Homo sapiens: one gene and its partners. The protein of the gene in region 1 purifies or fractionates together with the protein of each later gene. This does not show direct contact. Each region holds a gene or a part of one and is shown on either strand. Other genes may lie near its edges.

Region 1 (7,024 bases):
TCCTGAGTAGCTGGGACTACAGGCGCCCGCCGTCATGCCTGGCTAATTTTTCTATTTTTAGTAGAGACCGGGTTTCACTGTGTTAGCCAGGATGGTCTGGATCTCCTGACCCTGTGATCCACCCGCCTCGGCCTCCCAAAGTGCTGGGATTACAGGCGTGAGCCACCGTTCCCGGCTGTTTTGTTTTATTTTGTTTTGTTTGAGACAGGGTCTCCCTCTGTTGCCAAGGCTGGAGTGCAGTGGAAGGTCTCGGCTCACTGCAACCACTGCCTCCCAGGCTCAAGCGATTCTGTTGCCTCAGCCTCCCGAGTAGCTGGGATTGCAGGTGCGCCCCACCATGCCCGGCTAAGTTTTGTATTTTTAGTAGAGATGGGGTTTCACCATGTTGGCCAGGCTGGTCTCAAACTCCTGCCTTCAAGTGATCCACCTGCCTTGGCCTCCCAAAGTGTTGAGATTACAGGAGTGAGCCATTGCGCCTGGGCAGCAGAAGTTTTAAACCCTTTGCAGGCAGGAAAGTGAAGGCATGAGAGGGGAGGTGACTTTCTTGAGGTGGCAGAAACAGGCGGGCTCTCTGGGCAAAGTCACAGCTGCAAATCTGGGGTCTCCTGGAGACCATCGCGCCACTCTCGCACCCCGGCTTGTGTCAAACTCACTAGACAATTATCCCCGTGTTCTCAGACACAACTTCATCCAGGGGGTGTCCCGCCTGCCCTGAGACATTGTGGGGAGCAGGTGTGGGGCTCTCTCCTTAAGGGTGAGGTGGGTGAGAGATGGGAGGGTGGGGTGAGGGAAGGCTGAAGAGGCAGCTTCAGGGTCTTCCAAGGAGGTGACCTGGCTGGCCAGGGCCCAGGCAGTGGCAAAGACAGACCTCCCATAGGACCTCAGACCACCCAGCCGTCCGCACTGGGCAGGAAGGTAAGCTCAGCCCCCTCAGTCCTGCTCAAGGCAGAACTCAGTCTCCTCACCTCAGACCCCTAATGGCGGGGCCCTACCTCCACCTCAACCCCTCGCCCAGAGCCCCAGGGGTAGGGCCCTGTCTCTATCCGCCAAAACCCCGGGGCAAAGCACCGTCTCCCCAGATGCCCAGAGTATGGTAGGTCTCACCTCAGCCCCCCAAGATGGGGTGGAACACCCCTCAGTCCCCAGGGCATAACTGTGCCCCTCCCTCAGACCCTCCCAATAGGGTCCTGCCTGCCCCTTAGATCCTCAGATTAGAGCCCTGCCTCCCCTCTCAGACCTGAACCTGGCTAACTGGTGTCTTTTCTTTCTTTTTTTTTTTTTTTTTTTTTTTTTTTTGAGACAGAGTCTAGCTCTGTCGCCAAGGCTGGGGTGCAATGGCGCGGTATCCACTCACTGCAACCTCTGCCTCCTGGGTTCAAGCAATTCCCCTGCCTTAGCCTCCCGAGTAGCTGGGTCTACAGGTGCCCGCCAACATGCCCTGCTAATTTTTTTTTTGTATTTTTAGTAGAGACGGGGTTTCACTATGTTAACCAGGATGGCCTCAATTTCCTGACCTCGTGATCCGCCCGCCTTGGCCTCCCAGTGCTGGGATTACAGGTGTGAGCCACTGCACCTGGCCTGTCTTTTCATTTAAAAAAAAATTATTGGCCGGGTGCAGTGGCTCACACCTATAATCCCAACACTTCGGGAGGCCGAGGTGGGTGGATCACTAGGTCAGGAGATCGAGACCATGCTGGCTAACACAGTGAAACCCCGTCTCTACTAAAAATACGAAAAATTAGCCAGGTGTGGTGGTGGGCGCCTGTAGTCCCAGCTACTCGGGAGGCTGAGGCAGGAGAATGGCATGAACCCGGGAGGCGGAGCTTGCAGTGAGCCGAGATTGCGCCACTGCACTCCAGCCTGGGCGACAGAGCGAGACTCCGTCTCAAAAAATAAATAAATAAATAAATAAAAACATTATTTAATTATTTTATTATTATTATTACTATTTTTGACACAGAGTTTCACTCTGTCGCCCAGGCTGGATTGCAGTGGCGCAATCTCAGCTCCCTACAACCTCTGCCTCCCGGGTTCAAGTGATTCTCCTACCTCAGCCTCCCGAGTAGCTGGGATTACAGGCACCCGCCACCAAACCCAGCTAATTTTTTGTATTTTTAGTAGAGATGGGGTTTCCCCATGTTGGCCAGGCTGGTCTGGAACTCCTGATCTCAGGTGATCCACCTGCCTCAGCCTCCCAAGACACCTCTTCTCTATAAAAAATAAACTAAAAATTAAAAAAGAAACTTAAAAATCACATCCTTTTTTTTTTTTTTTTTTTTTAGAGACATGGTGTCACTACATTGCCGAGGCTGGTCTCGAACTCCCAGCCTCAAGCAGTGTTCCCACCTCAGCCTCCTAATGACTAAGGCTTTTGAGAACAGAAGGCATTCCCCATGTCCCCCCAGGACATTCACCCAGGGCCAACTGCAAAAGGATGAAGGACAGAGAGTTGCAGAAAGACAAACTCTCCTGATTCTTCATGTCTTATTATATTTCTGCAGAGGGTTCTCTTCCAAAGTTTGAAAGGCATGGCTTTAGTTTGTTAAATTGTGAACACTTTCTTTAAAAACAGCTTTGCTGGCCAGGCGTGGTGGTTCACACCTGTAATCCCAACATTTTGGGAGGCCAAGGTGGGTGGATTGCTTGAGCTCAGCAGTTTAAGACCAGCCTGGGCAACATGGTGAGACCCCATCTCTATAAAAAATTAGCCAGGAGTGGTGGCACGTGCCTGTAATCCCAGCTACTTGAGAGACTGAGGTGGGAGGATTGCCCGAGCCTGGGGAGGCTGAGGCTGCAGTGAGCTGTGATCACACCACCACACTCCAGCCTGGGTGGCAGAGTGAGACCATGTCTCAAAAAAAATAAAATTAAATTAAAATAAAAATAGCTGGCCGGGCGTGGCAGCTCACGTCTGTAATTCCAGCACTTTGGGAAGTCAAGGCAGGAGACTGAGGCCAGTGGATCACTTGAGGTCAGGAGTTCGAAACCACCTGGCTAACATGGTGCAACCCCGTCTCTACTAAAATACAAAAATTAGCTGGTCATGGTGGTGCACCCCTGTATTCCCAGCTACTTGGGAGGCTGAGGCATGAGAATCACTTGAACCCAGGAAGTAGAGGTTGCAGTGAGCTGAGATCACACCGCTGCACTCTAGCCTGGGCCACAGAGCGAGACTCCATCTCAATAATAATAATAATAATAAATAATTTTTAAAAACAGCTTTATTGATATATAATTCATGTATTTTACAATCCACCTATTTAAAGTGTACAATTTGATGTTTTTGTTTGTTTGTTTGTTTGTTTTGAGATGGAGTCTCGCTCTGTCGCCCAGGCTGGAGTGCAGTGGCGCGATCTCAGCTCATTGCAAGCTCTGCCTCCCAGGTTCACGCCATTCTCCTGCCTCAGCCTCCCGAGTAGCTGGGACTACAGGCGCCCGCCACCACGCCTGGCTAATTTTTTGTATTTTTAGTAGAGATGGGGTTTCACCGTGTTAGCCAGGATGGTCTAGATCTCCTGACCTCGTGATCCGCCCGCCTCGGCCTCCCAAAGTGCTGAGATTACAGGCGTGAGCCACCGCGCCCAGCCAATTTGATGATTTTTTTGTAAATTCACAGAGTTGTACATTGATCACCACGATCCATTTTAGAACATTATTTTAGAACATTTTCACCTTCCCAAAAGAAAACCCACGTCCCCATCAGCAGTCACTTCCCATTCCCCTCCCCCAATCCCTGACAGCCACCAACCTGCTTCCTGTCTCTATGGATTTGCCTGTTCTGGGCATTTCATGTCAGTGGAATCTCACATTCTGTGGCCTTTTGTGTCCGGCTTCTCTCACTTAGGCATCATGTTTTTGGGGTTCACACACACTGCAACATGGATCAGTGCTTCCTTCCTTTTTATGGCTGAATCATGTTCTATGTATGGAAGGAACACATTTTGTGCGTTAATTCATCTGCTGACAGGCATTTGGGTTCTTTCCACCTTTGGCTACTGTGAATCGAGCGGCTGTGGACATTCCTGGCAAGTTGATGTGAGGATGTGTTTCCATTGCTCTGGGTATATGCTGAGAAGTAGAGTTTCTGGGTCACGTGGTAACTATGTTTAACATTTTGAGGAACTGCCAGACTTTCCCAAAGCCGTTGCAACATTGTACATTCTCACTAGTACTGTCTGAGAATTCTGATTTCCCCACATCCTCATCAACACCTGTTACTGTTCATTTTGGGGGTTTATGGGTTTTTAAAATAGCCACCCTCGTGGGTGTGTAGTGGTATCTCACTGTGGTCCTGATTTGCATTTCCGTAATGGCTAATGATTTTGAATATCTTTCTTTTTTTTTTTTTTTTTTTTTTTTTAGACAGACTCTCGCTCTGTCACCCAGGCTGGAGTGCAATGGTGTGATCGTGGCTCACTGCAACCTCCATCTCCCGGGTTCAAGCAATTCTTCTGCCTCAGCCTCCCAAGTAGCTGGGATTACAGGCACCTGCCACCAGGCCTGGCTAATTTTTTTGTATTTTTAGTAGAGATGGGGTTTCACCATGTTGGCCAGGCTGGTCTCGAATGCCCAACCTCAGGTGATCCACCTGTCTTGGCCTCCCAAAGTGCTGGGATTATAGGTGTGAGCCACCGCGCCCAGCCGATTTTGAATGTCTTTTGATATGCTCTTTGGCCATTTGCATATCTTATTTAATTTAATTTTAATTTTTCTTTTTTTTTTTTTTGGACATAGAGTCTCACTCTGTTCCCCAGGTTGGAGTGTGGTGGCACAATCTCATCTCACTGCAACCTCCGCCTCCCGGATTCAAGCGAGTCTCCTGGCTCAGACTCCCAAATAGCTGGGACTACAAGCATGCGCTTCCATGCCTGGCTAATTTTTGTATTTTTAGCAAAGATGGGGTTTCGCCATGTTGGCCAGGCTGGTGGTGGGCAGATCACTTGAGGTTAGGAGTTCGAGACCAGCCTGGCCAACATGGCGAAACCCTGTCTCTACTAAAAATACAAAAATTAGCCAGGTATGGTGGTGCACACCTGTAATCCCAGCTACTCGAGAGGCTGAGGCTGGGGAATCACTTGAACCCGGGAGACGGAGGTTACAGTGAGCCGAGATCGTGCCACTGCACTCCAGGCTGGGTGACAGAGCAAAAAACCCTGTCTCAAAAACAACAACAAAAAAAAAAACAAAAAAAGGTTTTTTTTAAAGACTGTTGTTTGCCTCATGAGATGGTGTTAGCATTTGTATTAATTTGCTAGGGCTTCCATGACAAGGTATTACAGACTGGGTGGTACCAAGATCAAAGTGTTAGCGGGGTTGGTTCCTTCTGAGGCTGTGAGGGAAGGATCTGTTCCAGGTTTTTGTTTGTTTGTTTGTTTTTTTGAGACGGAGTCTCGCTCTGTCACCCAGGCTGGACTGGAGTGCAGAGACGCGATCTCGGCTCACTGCAACCTCCGCCTCCCCGAGTTCAAGCAATTCTCTGCCTCAGCCTCCCCAGTAGCTGAGATTACGGGTGCCCACCAACATGCCCTGCTAATTTTTTTGTATTTTTAGTAGAGATGGGATTTCACCATCTTGGCCAGGTTGCTCTTGAACTCTTGACCTCGTGATCCACCCGCCTTGGCCTCCCAGAGTGCTGGGATTACAGGCGTGAGCCACCATAGCCGGCCTGTTCCAGGTCTTTCTACTTGGCTTGCAGGTGGCATCTTCTTCCTGTGTCTGCTCTTGGTCTTCCTTCTGTCCGTGTCTCTGTGTCCAAATCTCTTCTCTTTATAAGGACATCAGTCATGTTGGATTAGGACCCACCCTAAGGACCTCACCTTAACTTAATTACCTCTCTAAAGACCCTACTTCTGCCAGGAGAGGTGGCTCACGACTATAATCCCAGCACTTTGGGAGGCCGAGGGGGGCGAATCACCTGAGGTCAGGAGTTTGAAACCAGCCTGGCCAACATGGTGAAACCCTGTCTCTACTAAAAATACAAAAATTAGTTCGGCCGAGTGCGGTGGCTCACACCTGTAATCCTAGCACTTTAGGAGGCCGAGGTGGGCGGATCACCTGAGGATGGGAGTTTGAGACCAGCCTGGCCAACATGGAGAAACCCTGTCTCTACTAAAAAATACAATATTAGCCAAGCATGGTGGTGCGTGCCTGTAATCCCAGCTACTAGGGAGACTGAGGCAGGAGAATCACTTGAACTCGGGAGGTGGAGGTTGCAGTGAGCCGAGATCATGCCATTGCACTCCAGCCTGGGCAAAAAGAGCGAAACTCCGTCTCAAAAAAAAAAAAAAAAAAAAAAAATTAGCCGGGCAGGGTGGTGGGCCCCTGTAATCCCAACTACTCGGGAGGCTGAGGCAGGAGAATCACTTGAACCCGGGAGGCAGAGGTTGCAGTGAGCTGAGATCGAGCCATTGTACTCCAGCCTGGGTGATAGAGCGAGACTCTGTGTAAAAAAACAAAAAACAAAAACAAAAAAACCCTACTTCTAAATACAGTCACATTCTCAGGTACTGGGGATACAGTTGAGCTCATAGCAGCATCCTTGTCCAAATCAGTTGACCATAGCCAGGCATGGTGGTGCACACCTGTAATCCCAGCAATTTGGGAGGCTGATGGGGGAGATCGTCACCACCCTGGTAAACATAGTGAAACCCCATCTCTACAAAAACAAATTTAAGGCTGGGCATGGTGGCTCACGCCTGTAATCCCAGCACTTTGGGAGGCCGAGATAGGCGGATCACCTGAGGTTGGGAGTTCAAGACCAGCCTGACCAACATGGAGAAACCCCATCTCTACTAAAAATGCAAAGATTAGCCGGGTGTTGTGGCGCATGCCTGTAATCCCAGCTACTCAGGAGGCTGAGGCAGGAGAATCGCTTGAACTCGGGAGGCGGAGGTTGCAGTGAGCCGAGATCGCGCCATTGCACTTCAGCCTGGGCAACAAGAGCGAAACTCTGTCTCAAGAAAAAAAAAAAAATTTAAAAATCAGTCAGGCGTGGTGGCACAGGCCTGTAGTCCCAGCTACTGGG
Region 2 (7,024 bases), on another chromosome or scaffold:
TGCTCAGGAGGTTGAGGCAGGAGAACCGCTTGAACCCAGGAGGCAGAGGTTACAGTAAGCTGAGGTTGCGCCACTGCACTCTAGCCTGGGCGACAGAGCTAGATTCTGTCTCAAAAAAAATAAACAAATAAATAAAAATAAAGAGCCTGGTGACTAAACTGCAGTCACAGCTACCTCTTATCTAACAATAACACTTAATTAACAAATATTTACTGGGCCCCTGTTATATTCCAGACACTGTGCTAGGTCTTGGGACAGGAACAAATAAGATAACCATGGTCCTAGCCTTCATGTTGTGAATAAGTAATATGCATTTTCCTACTGTTCATTTTGTTTCTTTTTAAATAATATTATGAAATTATATAAACACAAAATTTTAGAAAACTAAAGAAAATCTATCATTTTACTACCCTAACATAACAGAGCTCTCACTTTTATCTTTCTTCACATTGTCATAGTTTATATGGAATTTTGTTTTACTTCCTTTTTTCAGTTAATTTTTGTGTGTATGAAATGTGTTAAACACACAGAAGACTGAATGGTATACATATAAACATTCAAAGAAAAAAGATAAAATGAATACCCATGTATCTACCTCTGACATTAAGTTGTAGAACACTGCCTGAACTTGGAATCTCTGAGTTCCCCTCTAATTTATAGTCCTCTACTTTTTCCTCCATAAAACAATTTACTTGACTTGTGTGTTAATTATCCCTCTACTTTTTGCTATAGTTTTACTGCTTTTTTGTACTCCATAATGATGTTTAGGAAAAAATGAATAGCTAACATAAGCTTAGCATAAGGAAAGGACTGTGTTGCCATTTGTAGAAAGCAGCTCCCAGAAAAAGACAAGTTAAACATTTGAGTCTCTGGCTTTAGCTTCTTATAAGTTATTGAGAAAGTTTAGAAGAGCCCTTTCTTGTGAAATTATAAGGCAAAGTTGTGAGTCCTGTAAAATATACATCCCAGAGCATTTGGTGTGAGTCAGCTACAGGAGGAATGTGGGCTGGGGGAGTGAGCTGCTCAGTATTTTCAGTTTCAAAGCAAACTGTGACCTACCTCCAACTCTGAGGAATAGATTGAAGTCAGAAGGCTTCTTTCGGGGAAATGAGCATCTTCAGCCAATCCAGACAGCAGAACATGGAGAGGAGACTAAGAACTTCACCAGCAGATAGTCAACACAAGCCAAATACAGATACACTTGGGATCAGTTTCACTAGGCTATTTTATCCTGAGGTTTGAAAAGATGATACAATGGCAGCATGAAGCATGTGGATGACAGTCTTCAGTATGTCTGTCTCTTGAGTCACATCACTCTAATCTGGACCAGTATTTCCTTTAGCATTCTCTTTGGCTAATCCGTTTACTGTATCCGTTTCTTCTTTCTTGGTTGCCTCTCATTTTGTTGGAATATATCCTCCATTAATTTCTCAGAAAGATTTGTAAGAAGCGAATGTGAAAATGTGTGTCTGAAATGTCTGTGTTGCCCTCGTGTTTCATTGCTGGTTTAGATAGAATTTGTTACTTGTGGCCAGGTGCAGTGGCTCACGCCTGTAATCCCAGCACTTTGGGAGGCCAAAGCAGGCAGATCACTTGAGGCCAGGAGTTTGAGACCAGCCTGGCCAACATGGCAAAATCCCCTCTACTAAAAGTACAAAAATTAGCCAGGCATGGTGGCACATGCCTGTAATCCCAGCCATTCAGGAGGCTGAGGCACAGGAATCACTTGAACCTGGGAGGTGGAGGTTGCAGTGAGCTGAGATGACGCCACTGCACTCCAGCCTGGGTGACAGAGCGAGACTCCATCTCAAAAAAAAAAAGATAATATCTCCGTGCTGCAGGGTTCTAATGAAAAGACTGAAGTCATTCTGATTCCTGATCTTTTGTTTGTGACTTGTTTTGTATGTTCTTCTCTCCAAAATTGTTTAGAATCTTCTCTTTATCATGTCTTGGTATTGTGACATTGATGTAGGTTTCTTTTATCCATTGTATCTGGGCACTTGGTGGGCCTTTTCAGTGTGACAACTCATGTTTTTGAGTTCTCTGAAATTTTCTTGAATTATTTCTTTGATGATTGTATTAGGGTTCCTAGAAGGACAGAAATAAGAGGATAGATGTATATATAAAGGGGAGTTTATTAAGGAATATTGACTCATACAGTCACAAGGTAAGGTCTCATAATAGGCCATCTGCAAGCTGAGGAGCAGGGAATCCAGTCCGAGTCCCCAAACCTCAAAAGTAGGGAAGCCAGCAGTGCAGCTTTCAGTCTGTGGTTGAAGGTCCAAGAGTCCAAAAGCGAAGAACTTGGAGTCCGATGTTCAAGGGCAGGAAGCATCCAGCAGGGGAGAAAGATGTAGGCCAGAAGACTCAGCAAGTCTAGTCCTTCCATATTCCCCTGCTAGCTTTTATCCTAGCAGCTGATTAGATGGTGCCCACACAGATTGAGGGTAGGTCTGCCTCTCCCAATCCACTGACTCAAATGTTAATCCCCTTTGGCAACACCCTCAGACGCACCCAAGAACAGTACTTTGTATCCTTCAATCCAATCAAGTTGACACTCAATATTAACCATCACAATGATTTTTCTTTCTTCTATTTTGTTTGTTTGTTTGTTTGTTTTCTCTGAAATCCTTATTATATGGCCATTGAACTTCCTGGTCTGGTCTTTTATTGTTCTCTCATACTTTTCTTTTTCTCTCTTTGTCTGTCTTCTGTGTTATGGGAGATTTCCTCGCCTTTTATCTTTTAACTCTTCTTTTGACTTTTAATTATTGTCATGTTTTTAAATTTTCTGATTTTTTTAAAAAGCATTCTTGTATGTATATAATATCTTCTTAATTCTCTGAAGATATTATTTTTTATTTTTGTTTTTTCCCCTCCTTTGAGGTTTCTGTTTCCTCCAAATCTGTTTCTTTATTTTGTTCTTTATATTCCTAGTTAGAGGTTTTCTCAGAAATCAGATCTTCTGCTCACAATTAAGTTTAGGGAAACTAAAATCTGATTTTAAGCTTTAACACGTAGGTGGCGCCTATGTTTTTCATTGTCCCATAATCTGGATGGGCCATTTGTTGGGAGACTTGGTGTCAGTATCATTAGGTTTTTCTTCTAGGTTTAGTCAAATTTCCCAGAAGAAAAATTTTTTCATCTCATACTTGGTGACTCCAAAAGGAGTTAAAAAGGAGAAGAAGGCTGCATGAGAGAGGGTGTTAATAGCTAACGTTTAGTTTATATGGAGTTATTAAATGCCCTTGTTATGTATCACTTGGTATCCACTCTCTTAGAATTCCTTGCTATTCTCCAGTCTAGAGAATAGACCACCTTGTTTATCCAGAGGCTAAACCTCTAGACTTTGAGGTCCAAGAGGGTAGTTACTAACAGTGTGGAGTTGGGGGTTTGAGTTAGGCATCTAATTGCTTTCCATACAGATTTTACTCAGTTATTTTTATTTTATCATTTCTGTGAATCCCCAGATCCAGAGGTACCTAGTGCGATCAGCTCCTGAGCCTTTTTAGGAATCTGTGCATATTGTAACCTACTGCCTAAGTTTCAGCTTTCTAGTTAGGAACTCTCAAAATTTTGTTGTGTTTTGTCTACTTTCCTGGTATCTCTGGGTTTGTCTTTATATGAAGTTAATTTAATTTCAGTGGAATTTCGACAGAAAGTGAAATTAAGATGCATGTGTTCAATTCACCAGCTGAACCTGCAACATCCACTGTCTTTTGTATTATTTGTATCATCTTCAAAACCGTCTTTTTAAATGACTATAATAGTCAATTAAATGAAAGTTCCCTACTTCAGTTAGCTAGAACCGTAGTTTAAAATGCAGGTTGTTCTAATTATTTTTTCACATTGCTTTTCCTTCATTCAATTATTTATTTCCTAAGGCTAGATTCTTGGAATGTAAGTACTAGGCTAAATGGGTAAGAACATCTTAGGGCTCTTGAAAAATATTGCCAGATTTTGCTTTCTCAGACGTTTAAACCATTTTGCAGTGCCTCTCCCAACTCTGCTTTAAGTAAAATATTTATCTTTCTTACACTTACCTGGTTTTAAGTATAAAAATTTCTCTTATTGGAAATAGTTCTCTTGTGCTTAAGATTAAATATATGTTGCAGTTTTTGCTTCGGTCTGTGATCTCTTTAGTCTGTTCTCAGGGAATGACATTTATTGACTTTTCTCATGTCTTGGTCATTCATCTACAATTTAATTTTAACATAGGAAAGGAGCAAAGGCATGGCTAACATTTACTTTGAGTTTTAACACCATTTCCCTGGTGATACTTTTATCCAGTCTAGAAGTTTGAGGATTTTTTTGAAGTTTCTTCTGACTCTCTTGAATTTATGTTTAGTCTTGGGCAGATTTGCCTGTCCTTTTAAGAATGCTTTTTTGTTGTTGTTGTTAAGACAGGGTCTCACTCTGTTGCTCAGGTACAAGTGCAGTGGCGCAGTCATGGCTCATTGTAGCCTTGACCTCCCAGGTGATCCTCCCACCTCAGCCTCCTGAGCAGCTGGGACCACAGGCACAAGGCACCATGCCCAGCTAATTTTTGTAACTTTTGTAGAGACACGGTTCCACTATGTTGCCTCAGCTGGTTTCGAACTCCTGTGCTGAAACAATCCTCCCAACTTGGCCTCCCAAAGTGCTGTGATTATAGGCATGAGCCACTGCGCCTGGCCAAGAATGCTTATTTTTTAATGTGACTGAATACTTTTTCTTTGTGACTTTGTTTTTAATACCCATCTAGAATGAAATGTTTTCAGAGAGAGAATAGTTGTCTACAGATATGCTACACATGGATTAAATTTCCCCTCTTTCATTGATTGTTGTTTTAGGTGGTGCTTCCTACATTTATCCTAGAGAAGCGTTCCTTGCTGGAAATGTATGCAGACTTTATGTCTCATCCAGACCTATTTATAGCCATCACTAATGGAGCCACAGCTGAGGACAGAATGATTCGCTTTGTTGAGTACTACCTTACCTCATTTCATGAAGGCCGTAAGGGAGCCATTGCTAAAAAACCATACAATCCTATCATTGGAGAAACATTTCACTGTTCCTGGAAGATGCCAAAAAGCGAGGTAGCATCCAGTGTTTTTAGCAGTTCTTCCACCCAGGGAGTCACAAATCATGCTCCTTTATCGGGGGAGTCTTTGACCCAGGTGGGATCAGACTGTTACACAGTCAGATTTGTTGCTGAGCAGGTTTCTCATCATCCTCCAGTCTCAGGATTTTATGCAGAATGTACAGAGAGGAAGATGTGTGTAAATGCGCATGTCTGGACTAAGAGCAAGTTCTTAGGCATGTCAATAGGCGTGACAATGGTTGGAGAAGGTAAGTAGAAAAATTATTTTATATATATATATATATATACACACACACATATATATATGTATTTTTTTTTCCAAGCAGGAATGAAAGTTTACTTTAAAAGGCTTTAGAACAGGAAAGAAAGGAAAGTTCGCTTGGGAGAAACCCAAGCAGGCACGTGAAGGTCAAGTGCCTGTTTTATAATTTTTAATATCAAACTACAATCTTAAATTTAGGAACCCCAGATAAATATTAACTCTAAGTTTAAAATATTATGTTACTTTTTCGCTCCAATTTCTAGAGTGTTCCAGAATGCTTCTTGTGGGGATGGGAGGAGTATATCTATGAACTAATGTAAATTCTCTTTTTAAATTATTTTTTTCTGATTTTAAATATTTCTTTTCGTTTGTTTTCTTTTCTTTTTTTTGAGATGGAGTCTCGCTCTGTCATCCAGGCTGGAGTGCAATGGTGCTATCTCCGCTCACTGCAAACTCCGCCTCCCAGGTTCAAGCGATTCTCCTGCCTCAGACTCACGAGTAGCTGGGATTATGGCGCCTGCCACCATGCCACCACACCCAGCTAATTTTTATATTGTTAGTAGAGATGGGGGGTTTCACCATGTTGGTTAGGCTGGTCTCAAACTCCTGACCTCTGATGATCCACCCACCTCGGCCTCCCAAAGTGATGGGATTACAGGCATGAGCCACCGTGCCTGGCGATTTTAAATATTTCTTATCAAATATTTGGAAAACTAGAAAAGTACAAAGCAGAAAATAAAAGCTTCTGTAATGCCTGCATCCATATATATATAAATTTAATATTTTATACTTTTTCTGTGTGTGTATGTTCATACTTTTAGCCTTATAAAATTAGAATTAATAATATATATAGTTTTGAGTCCTGCTTTTTAAATTAAATATATTCATTTTATCATGTCATTGATAAAACATATTTTAATGACTGCATAATATTCTATGAAATAGATTTTCCATCCTTTTTTTTAATTTAATTTAATTTAATTTTTTTTTTTTTTTTTTTTTAGAAACAGGGTCTTGCTCTGTTGCCCAGGCTGAAGTGCAGTGGCATGGTCATAACTAACTGCAGCCTTGACCTACTCGGCTCAAGCCATCCTCCTGCCTCAGCCTCCCAAGTAGCTAGGACTACAGGCATGCACCACCATGCTAGGCTAATTTTTTTAATTTTTATTTTTAGAGACAGGGTCTCAATATGTTGCCCAGGCTGGTCATGAACTCCTGGGCTCAAGTGATCCTTTGGCCTCCACCTCCAGGCATTAGCCTGTAATCTCAGCACTTTAGGAGATGGAGGCCAGAGGTGCTATTCATAGAATATTTAGGTGCTATTCATAGAATATTTAAAAATATATGCTGATAAAAGTTAATTCTACTTCATCAGAAGATTATGAAAAAATTATTTTTGGAAATGCAGAGTTTTTTGACCAAGAATATGAAACAAAAACAAAAATCTCCACAGAAATTATTGAAGAGTTAATGAAAATATAATGATAGGAAAAAAATACCACTTTTATGTTAAAGGAAAACTCTTATGCAAAGAACACTATGCTCTGAATGTCATCTTACAGTGTAAGCATGGCATCATTAAGCCAATCTAATATTTTGAGATTGTGTTATAGTCGTTATGAAGAAAGTATCCTCTTTTTCAGTTTTCCTCATTTTTAAGTTCTGTTGTAATATGTCTT
Region 3 (7,941 bases), on another chromosome or scaffold:
GATGCCAGAGTCATGCCCAAAAGTAAACTGGTCGTAAAAGATTTAGAAAGCCCTGGAAACAGAAAAGAAAGCATCATCTTACACTTGTACAAAATCACAGTGCAGCCACACCAGGAATACTGCATTCACTTCTTGTCGCCATACCTCAAGGAAGACAATGCAGCTAGAAAAGGTCCAGAGAAGGACAAATAAAATGACCAACAGCTCAGAGTGGCTTTCACATGAAAATAAAATTTTATATCAGACTCTTCAAATTGAAATAACAAGATGGGGATGCTGGGATAAGGTTTGGGATCAATTTAAGAGTACTCTCAACCAGGACCGGTGGCTCACACCTATAATCCCTGACCTTTGGGAGGCCAAGGCAGGAGGATTGTTTGAGACCAAGAGTTTGAGACCAGCCTGGGCAACATAGCAAGACCCCATCTCTACAAAAAACGTTTTAAAAATTAGCCAGGTGCAGTGGCACATGCCTGTAGTCTCAGCTACTCAGGAGGCTGAGGCAGGAGGAGCCCTTAAGCCCAGGAGTTTGAGGCTGCAGTGAGCTATGATTGTGCCACTGCACTCTGGTCTTCTTATAATCTTCTTACAAAGTGGTTAAGCAGGAGTTAAGTTATTATTAAACCCTAAGAAGTAGTACTATTGGGCCAATCAGGAATTAACGACATTTCAGGAAAAAAAAATGAATTATTTGCTATAATTAAATAGAGAGCATTTTCCTAAATACCTGATTTATTTATTATCAAGGTCAGAATAATCTCAAAAATAAAGATCCTTGATATCCACAGAAGATAGAATACCAGGGGGATAGACAGTAAAATTAAATCAGTATGCCACTGCTGAACTTTTTAGGCCTTTCTGGGTCACCAACACAGGAGGGAGAAAGATTCTTACCACCCGGTTCCACAAGGCACCCTGTTTACTTTGCATATCTGGGGTAAGGCGGATATACTGGGTCATCACCATGGCATTGCCCATCAGATTCCACAGTGAGGAACTGCCTGTGCCCACACCTACAGGAAGGAAGTAGATCAGTTCATACTTTTCAACACCAATCCATTCAGAAAGCAGCCACCACAGAGCCTCTGAAAGCTGAGCCATCATCTTTTTCCCCCTTTAATGTCACTCAATCTCCTATCTTCTCTCAGTCATGAATCTTACCATCTCTACAGCTTTCACAAGGCCTTTATCAGGTAAGGACCCCAAAGCACATCAGAACTCTCACTTTATGCATGTTACAGTAACCATAGCTCACATCCATTCTTCCCGTTTTATATGTGAGTAAACTTCAGCATCGTAAAAGAAAAAAATTTTCCTGAGTTATATCAAAAAGAGTTTGACAGGCCAGGTGCAGTGGCTCACCCATGTAATCCCCACACTTTGAGATGATGTGGAGGGAGGGCATCTTGAGGTCAGCAATTTGAGACCAGCCTGGGCAACATAGAAAGACCCTGTCTTTACCAAAAAAAAAATTAGCCAGGTGTGGTAGTCCTTGTCCATAGTCCTAGCTACTCAGGAGGCTGAGTTGGGAGCATCGCTTGAGCCCAGGAGATTGAAACTGCATGAGCCATGATTGTGCCACTGCACTCCAGCCTAGGCAACGGAACAAGACCTTGTCTCTAAAAATATATAAATATAAATAAAAAGAGTTTGACCCTCAGGCCTCCGGGGCTTAGTCACATTCTTCCTTTTTTTTTTTTCTTTGAGATGGAGTCTCGCTCTGTTGCCCAGGCTGAAGTGCAGTGGCATGACCTCGGCTCACTGTAAGCTCTGCCTCCCGGGTTCACGCCATTCTCCTGCCTCAGCCTCCTGAGTAGCTGGGACTACAGGCGCCCGCCACCACACCTGGCTAATTTTTTTGTATTTTCAGCAGAGATGGGGTTTCACCGTGTTAGCTAGGATGGTCTCAATCTCCTGACCTCGTGATCCGCCCACCTCGGCCTCCCAAAGTGCGGAGATTACAGGCGTGAGCCACCGCCCCAGCCGTCACATTCTTTCTTTAAACAATCCTTAAAGTGTGAAGCTACTCCCTGTACCCTCACCTATAAACTTCTTTAAGAATGAAAACTTTGTGTCTGCAAACCCATAAGCATTAGCAAAGAGACAGCACAGAGGCACTCCAGGCATGTAAGTGAATAAATGATTACCCTTAGTAGTAGAGTATACTCTTGCACTTTGAATTGTTTTCTGTCCCACTACCTACGCCTTAGTGGGGAAAGACTTGTGTTAGTTAAGCCATCTGCACTGGTTTGTCATCGTTTTGTGGCTAACTGCATTAATTTTCTGGCTGATAAGCTGTGCTTAGAGTTCTGTGAACCCTAACCTCTTTCACCAACAGGGCCCCTAGGCTGGAGAAGAGAAGGTGGTTCTACCCAGCAACATAAATTTATCATCTTCTCATTTCGTTCAAGTTCTACCCCAGTTCTTCCTCCTGCTTTATTTCTAGCACATCCACAGGTCCATCTGGAGACTGGCTCATTGCTAGTAGCCCTCAATCACTCCTCACCATTCTCAATTCTCTCCCCTTCCCAAACTCCTCCTGTCTAACTCCAGGCCTAGTACTAGTGGCACCCGACAGCCCTGCCTTTACCTACTGGAAACTTCCAGAGCTTGGCAGGCACACCTAACTCCTGCCTTTCAGACCTGTGGCTCCCAAACGCGGAGGGAGTCTCCGTGGGCCCCACCACCGCCAGCAGTTTCCTCCGGGCCACGAAGCCCTTCGCCGCCCCCGCCTCTACCCCTGAAATCAAGTCCCGAAGCCCGCCCCACTGCACGACCACCTCACCCTGGGCGCCTCACCCTGGTAGGGCTTCGACAGCGAGTGCTCCCGTTTCAAGTACTCGAACGTTTGACCCGCCCCGACTTGCTGTGGCCCCTGCCCAGACCCCAACAAAAGAAGAAGGAGTAACATCCTGGACCCATCCCGAGCCGACAAACATCGCCGCCACTGCTGCCACGACCCAAGGGGTCCCAGAGTCGCCGCCATCTTTCCCACCAACGACCCTTCATCAAAAGCCCGCCCCGTCGCCCAACCCATTGGCCCGAAGAGCCATCTGCCCTGCGTCCTATTGGCTTTCGTCAAGCCCCCGCCCCTGCAGGTGACTATATCACCGATTGGCTGGCTTCTGTATCAGTTGCCTTGCCAACCCAGAAAAGGGGCGTAGCCGAATGCCCAGCCCCCCCCCTTATTTGCATTTGCCCTGAGTTCCACTAGGCTTGCTGGGATACGTAGTTTATTTGTATTTTGTTTTCTGCGTACGAGAGTAAATTTAAAGAGATAAAACGTTTCTTCTGGTCCCAAACATTCTATCCTCTCTGCAATAGTACGCTCCTGACTGCAGCTCTCTGAATCAATTTGGAAGATATAGCAGTGAAAGGAGAAATAGACAAATCCGTAAAATAGCTGGAAAACTATCAATTTATAAAAGACTTGAACAGCACTACCAACTAACTTGACCTGATGATATTTATAGAAACTCCACCTAACAACTGCGGAAGACACATTCTCTTCAAATGCAAATGACTCCTTTGCCGTGATAGTCTGGGCCATCAAGCAACCTACAGATATAAAAGAACTGAAAGCACACAAATTAATTAATTCTAAAAGCCATCACCTCCTTTCCTCCCTTCCTCTTTTTTTTCTTTTTGGTTTGAGACGAGGTCTTGGCCAGGCGCGGTGGCTCACGCCTGTAATCCCAGCACTTTGGGAGGCCGAGGCAGGCGGATCACCTGAGGTTGGGAGTTCGAGACCAGCCTGACCAAGGTGGAGAAACCCCGTCTCTATTAAAAATAAAAAAAAAAATTAGCCAGGCGTGGTGGCACGTGCCTGTAATCCCAGCTACTGGGAGGCTGAGGCAGGAGAATCGCTTGAACCTGGGAGGCAGAGGTTGCAGTGAGCCGAGACCAAGCCATTGCACTCCAGCCTGGGCCACATAGAGCAAAACTCCATCTCAAAAAAAAAAAAAAAAAGAGAGACAAGGTCTTGCTCTGTTGCCCAGGCTGGAGTGCAGTGGCACAATCTCAGCTCCAGCCTCTCCCTCCCTGGCTGAAGTGATCCTGCCACCTTAGCCTCCTGAGTTACTGGGACTACAGGCACATCCCTTCGTCTTTATCCGGCACCACAACATGTGTCCAGACTGGTCTCCACGTAGCCACTAAAGTGATCCAAACTATCTAACCATGGTAAGTGTCAGGGTTAAATGAGTCAATATTGGTAAACCTCTTAGAACAGTGCCTTGCGTGTAGTAAGCACTATTTCTTTCTTTTTTCTTTTCTTTTTTTTTTTGTTTTTGTTTTTGTTTTTGTTTTTGAGACAGGGTCTCTCTCTGTCACCCAGGCTGGAGTGCAGTGGCATGACCACAGCCTCAACCTCCTGGACTCAAGGGATCTTCCCACTTCAGCCTCTCAAGTAGCTGGGACTACAGGTGTGTGCCACCTCACCTTGCTAATTTTTATTTTTTGTAGCTATGGGGTTGTGGGGGAGGTCTCACTAAGTTGCCCAGATTTGTCTCATACTTCTAGACTTCAGTGATCCTCTCTCCTCAGCCTCCCAAAGTGCTGGGATTAGAGGTGTAAGCCACCGCACCAAGCCATAAGCGCTATTTCATCATCATCATTCTTATTAACCGGGCCTTTGATGGCTCACCATCACCTGTGGGGAGGAGATTCAAGCCCCTCAATTTGGCACACAAAGCCCCCTGCCATCTGGCCCTGGCCTTATTGCCCATGACTCTTTTCCTCCATCTTTATGCTCCAGCTTCCCTTCCCTCTTTTTTTTTTCTGCAGTCCACTTCCTTCTGGAGGTCCTTCTCAAACCTCTCAGGCAGGGTAGATTCTCCTGTCTGAGCTCTCAAAGTGTTCCATGCACATCTCATATAGAGCAATTGACAGATCTGTGTTTATGTCTTCCCAATAGACTTAACCAAAGTTAACACTCTCTTGCTTTCCTGAGCATGAATATATTTAATAAGATAAACATAATTATGAGCCTACTTTACAGGGGATCAACTTTTTAAAATTAAAGCTGTCACAGCTATTTTTTTTAAAGAGATGGGGTCTTGGCTGGGCACGGTGGCTCAGGCCTGTAATCCCAGCACTTTGGGAGGCAGGCGGATCACCTGAGGTCAGGAGTTCAAGACCATCCTGGCCAACATGGTGAAACCCCATCTCTACTAAAAATACAAAAAATTAGCCAGCCGTGGTGGCACACGCCTGTAGTCCCAGCTACTCAGGAGGCTGAGGCAGGAGAATCACTTGAACCCAGAAGGCGGAGGTTGCAGTGAGCCGAGACCGCACCACAGCACTCCAGCCTGGGCAACACAGTGAGACTTCGTCTCGAAAAATATATATATACATATATATACAAAAATTAAATGGGCGTGGTGGCAGGTGCCTGTAATCCCAGATACTTGGAAGGCTGAGGCAGGAGAATCACTTGAACCCAGGAGGTAGAGGTTGCAGTGAGTCAAGAAGATCCCACCACCATACTCCAGCCTGAGCAGCAGATCCGTCTCAAAAAAACAAAAAAAAGAAGAAATGGGGTCTCAATCCATCAGGCTGGGGTGCAGTACTGTGATCATAGCTCACTACAGTCTCAAACTGCTGGGTGAGCCTCAGCTAATTTTTAAAATTTTTTCTAAAGATGGGGGTCTCTATGTTGCCCAGGCTGGTTTTGAACTTCTGGCCTTAAGCGATCCTCCCACCTCATCTCTCAAAGTGCTGAGATTACAGGTGTGAGCCATGGTGCCCAGCCTGTCACTGCCATCAGTCTTTGACACCCTACAATGTCAAATGTCTGGTGCTAAGACTTTAGGAATTGCAATGAATCTGTTCGTGTCATACACTGGCTTTAAAACCATTCATAACTCCCAATTACCAAAATCCAAAGTCCTTAGTGTAGCATTCAAAGCCCTTTGCATCCTGACTGAAATCAGGCGCTACGCATGTGTACTGTAATGTGTGTCACCTGGAATTATGGAGCTCAATTAACAGATTATGGGTTTGTCTCCGCAGCAAGGCTGGGAGCTCCAGGACCACAGGAAGCAGGTCTTACTCATTTCCTAACTCAGGCCCCACCCATTTCCCCAACCCCAACCTATCACCCAGCACATAGTAGGGGTTCTAATTGTTTTGAATAAATTATTTCCATTGCATTTCTCTGCAAGATGAATTTTTAATTGTAGTAAAATGCACATAAAGGCCGGGCGCGGTGGCTCACACCTGTAATCCCAGCACTTTGGGAGGCCGAGGTGGGTGGCTCATCTGAGGTCGGGAGTTCGAGACCAGCCTGACCAACATGAAGAAACCCCGTCTCTACTAAAAATACAAAATTAGCCGGGTGTGGTGGCGCATGCCTGTAATCCCAGCTAGTTGGGAGGCTGAGGCAGGAGAATCGCTTGAACCTGGGAAGTGGAGGTTGCGGTGAGCCAAGATCGCGCCACTGCACTCCAGCCTAGGCAACAAGAGTGAAACTCTGTCTCAAAAAAAAAAAAGAAAAAAAATACATAAAATACAGCGTATAATTTTTAAGTACAGATGGTCCTCAACTTACAATGGGGTTACCTACAGAAAAACTAAACCCATCCTAAAGTCTAAAAATCCTAAGTCAAACCATCATTAAGTCAGGACCATGTGTGTTCAGTTCAAAGGCATTAAATTCATTCGCAGTGTCATGCACCCTGTCAGCTGAATTTCTGATAGATTGACACAAGCAGAAATCTCATTGTAAAATTCTGTGTGATGAGGAAAAGGGGAATAAAGGAGAAGGGTGTGAAAGGTGAGATGCACTGGACTATAAATCAAATCATTTTGTTCAGACTGTTGCAATAGGAAGAATGCTTATTAATGAGGAATGTATCAAAGAAAAGGAAGAGCCAGGCCCGGTGGCTCATACCTGTAATCCCAGTACTTTGGGAGGCTGAGGCGGGTGGATCATGAGGTCAGGAGTTCGAGACCAGCCTGGCCAATATAGTGAAACCCCATCTCAACTAGAAATACAAAAATTAGCCAAGCGTGGTAGTGCACACCTGTAGTCCCAGCCACTCGGGAGGTTGAGGCAGGAGAATCGCTTGAACCCAGGAGGAAGAGGTTGCAGTGAGCCAAGATCATGCCACTGCACTCGAGCCTGAGCAACAGAGTGAGACTCCATCTCAAAAGAAAAAAAAAAGGAAAGGAAGGACAGGCGGGGCTCGGTGGCTCACACCTGCAATCCCAGCACTTTGGGAGGCCGAGGTGGGGGTGGAGGGCGGAATCATTTGAGGTCAGGAGTTCGAGACCAGCCTGGCCAACATGGTGAAACCCTGTCTCTACTAAAAATACAAAAATTAGCCAGGCATGGTGCCTGTAATCCCAGCTACTTGGAAGGCTGAGGCAGGAGAATTGCTTGAACCCAGGAGGCGGAGGTTGCAGTGAGCCGAGATCACGCCATTGCACTCCAGCCTGAGCAACAAGAGTGAAACTCCATCTCAAAGCAAAACAAAAGGAAGGAGACCTGGGGTAATCCAGGTAAACAAGGGATCTTTCGTGAGAGGAAGGATGGAGAGGGTCTTATCTGAGTCACTGAGGAAGGGTGGAAGTGGGTCTTATCTTGGGATATTCCAGAGCAGGGTAGTCCGTTAAGACAGCCATCTCTCAGCTGGGCGCAGTGGCTCATGCCTGTAATCCCAGCGCTTTGGGATGCTGAGGCGGACAGATCATATGTCAGGAGTTTAAGACCAGCCTGGCCAACAAACATGGTGAAACCCTGTCTCTACTAAAAATACATAAAAAATTTGCCGGGCATCATGGCACGTGTGTGTAATCCCAGCTACTTGGGAGGCTGAGATATGAGAATCTCTTGAGCCTGGGAGGCAGAGGTTGCAGTGAGCCAAGATCGCGCCACTATACTCCAGCCTGGACAACGGAGTCTACAAAGTGAGATGGAAGGAAGACAAAAGGATGGGG

Evidence for each region.
Region 2: the proteins of PLVAP (region 1) and OSBPL11 purify together in Homo sapiens (affinity purification with mass spectrometry; 3 studies listed by BioGRID and IntAct, with this or other methods). This does not show direct contact.
Region 3: the proteins of PLVAP (region 1) and LMAN2L purify together in Homo sapiens (affinity purification with mass spectrometry; 3 studies listed by BioGRID and IntAct, with this or other methods). This does not show direct contact.

Annotation. Positions count from the first base shown.
Region 1 is NC_000019.10:17,367,338-17,374,361, reverse strand, and holds part of PLVAP (plasmalemma vesicle-associated protein), read left to right. Parts: intron 1-7,024. UniProt on the Homo sapiens protein: Endothelial cell-specific membrane protein involved in the formation of the diaphragms that bridge endothelial fenestrae. It is also required for the formation of stomata of caveolae and transendothelial channels.
Region 2 is NC_000003.12:125,550,488-125,557,511, reverse strand, and holds part of OSBPL11 (oxysterol-binding protein-related protein 11), read left to right. Parts: intron 1-4,832; coding exon 4,833-5,331; intron 5,332-7,024. UniProt on the Homo sapiens protein: Plays a role in regulating ADIPOQ and FABP4 levels in differentiating adipocytes and is also involved in regulation of adipocyte triglyceride storage. Weakly binds 25-hydroxycholesterol. Interacts with OSBPL9 to function as lipid transfer proteins.
Region 3 is NC_000002.12:96,737,055-96,744,995, forward strand, and holds the start of LMAN2L (VIP36-like protein isoform 2 precursor), read right to left. Parts: upstream 3,011-7,941; 5' UTR 2,987-3,010; coding exon 2,800-2,986; exon of another isoform or gene 2,786-2,799; intron 1,014-2,785; coding exon 895-1,013; intron 164-894; exon of another isoform or gene 83-163; intron 1-82. UniProt on the Homo sapiens protein: May be involved in the regulation of export from the endoplasmic reticulum of a subset of glycoproteins. May function as a regulator of ERGIC-53.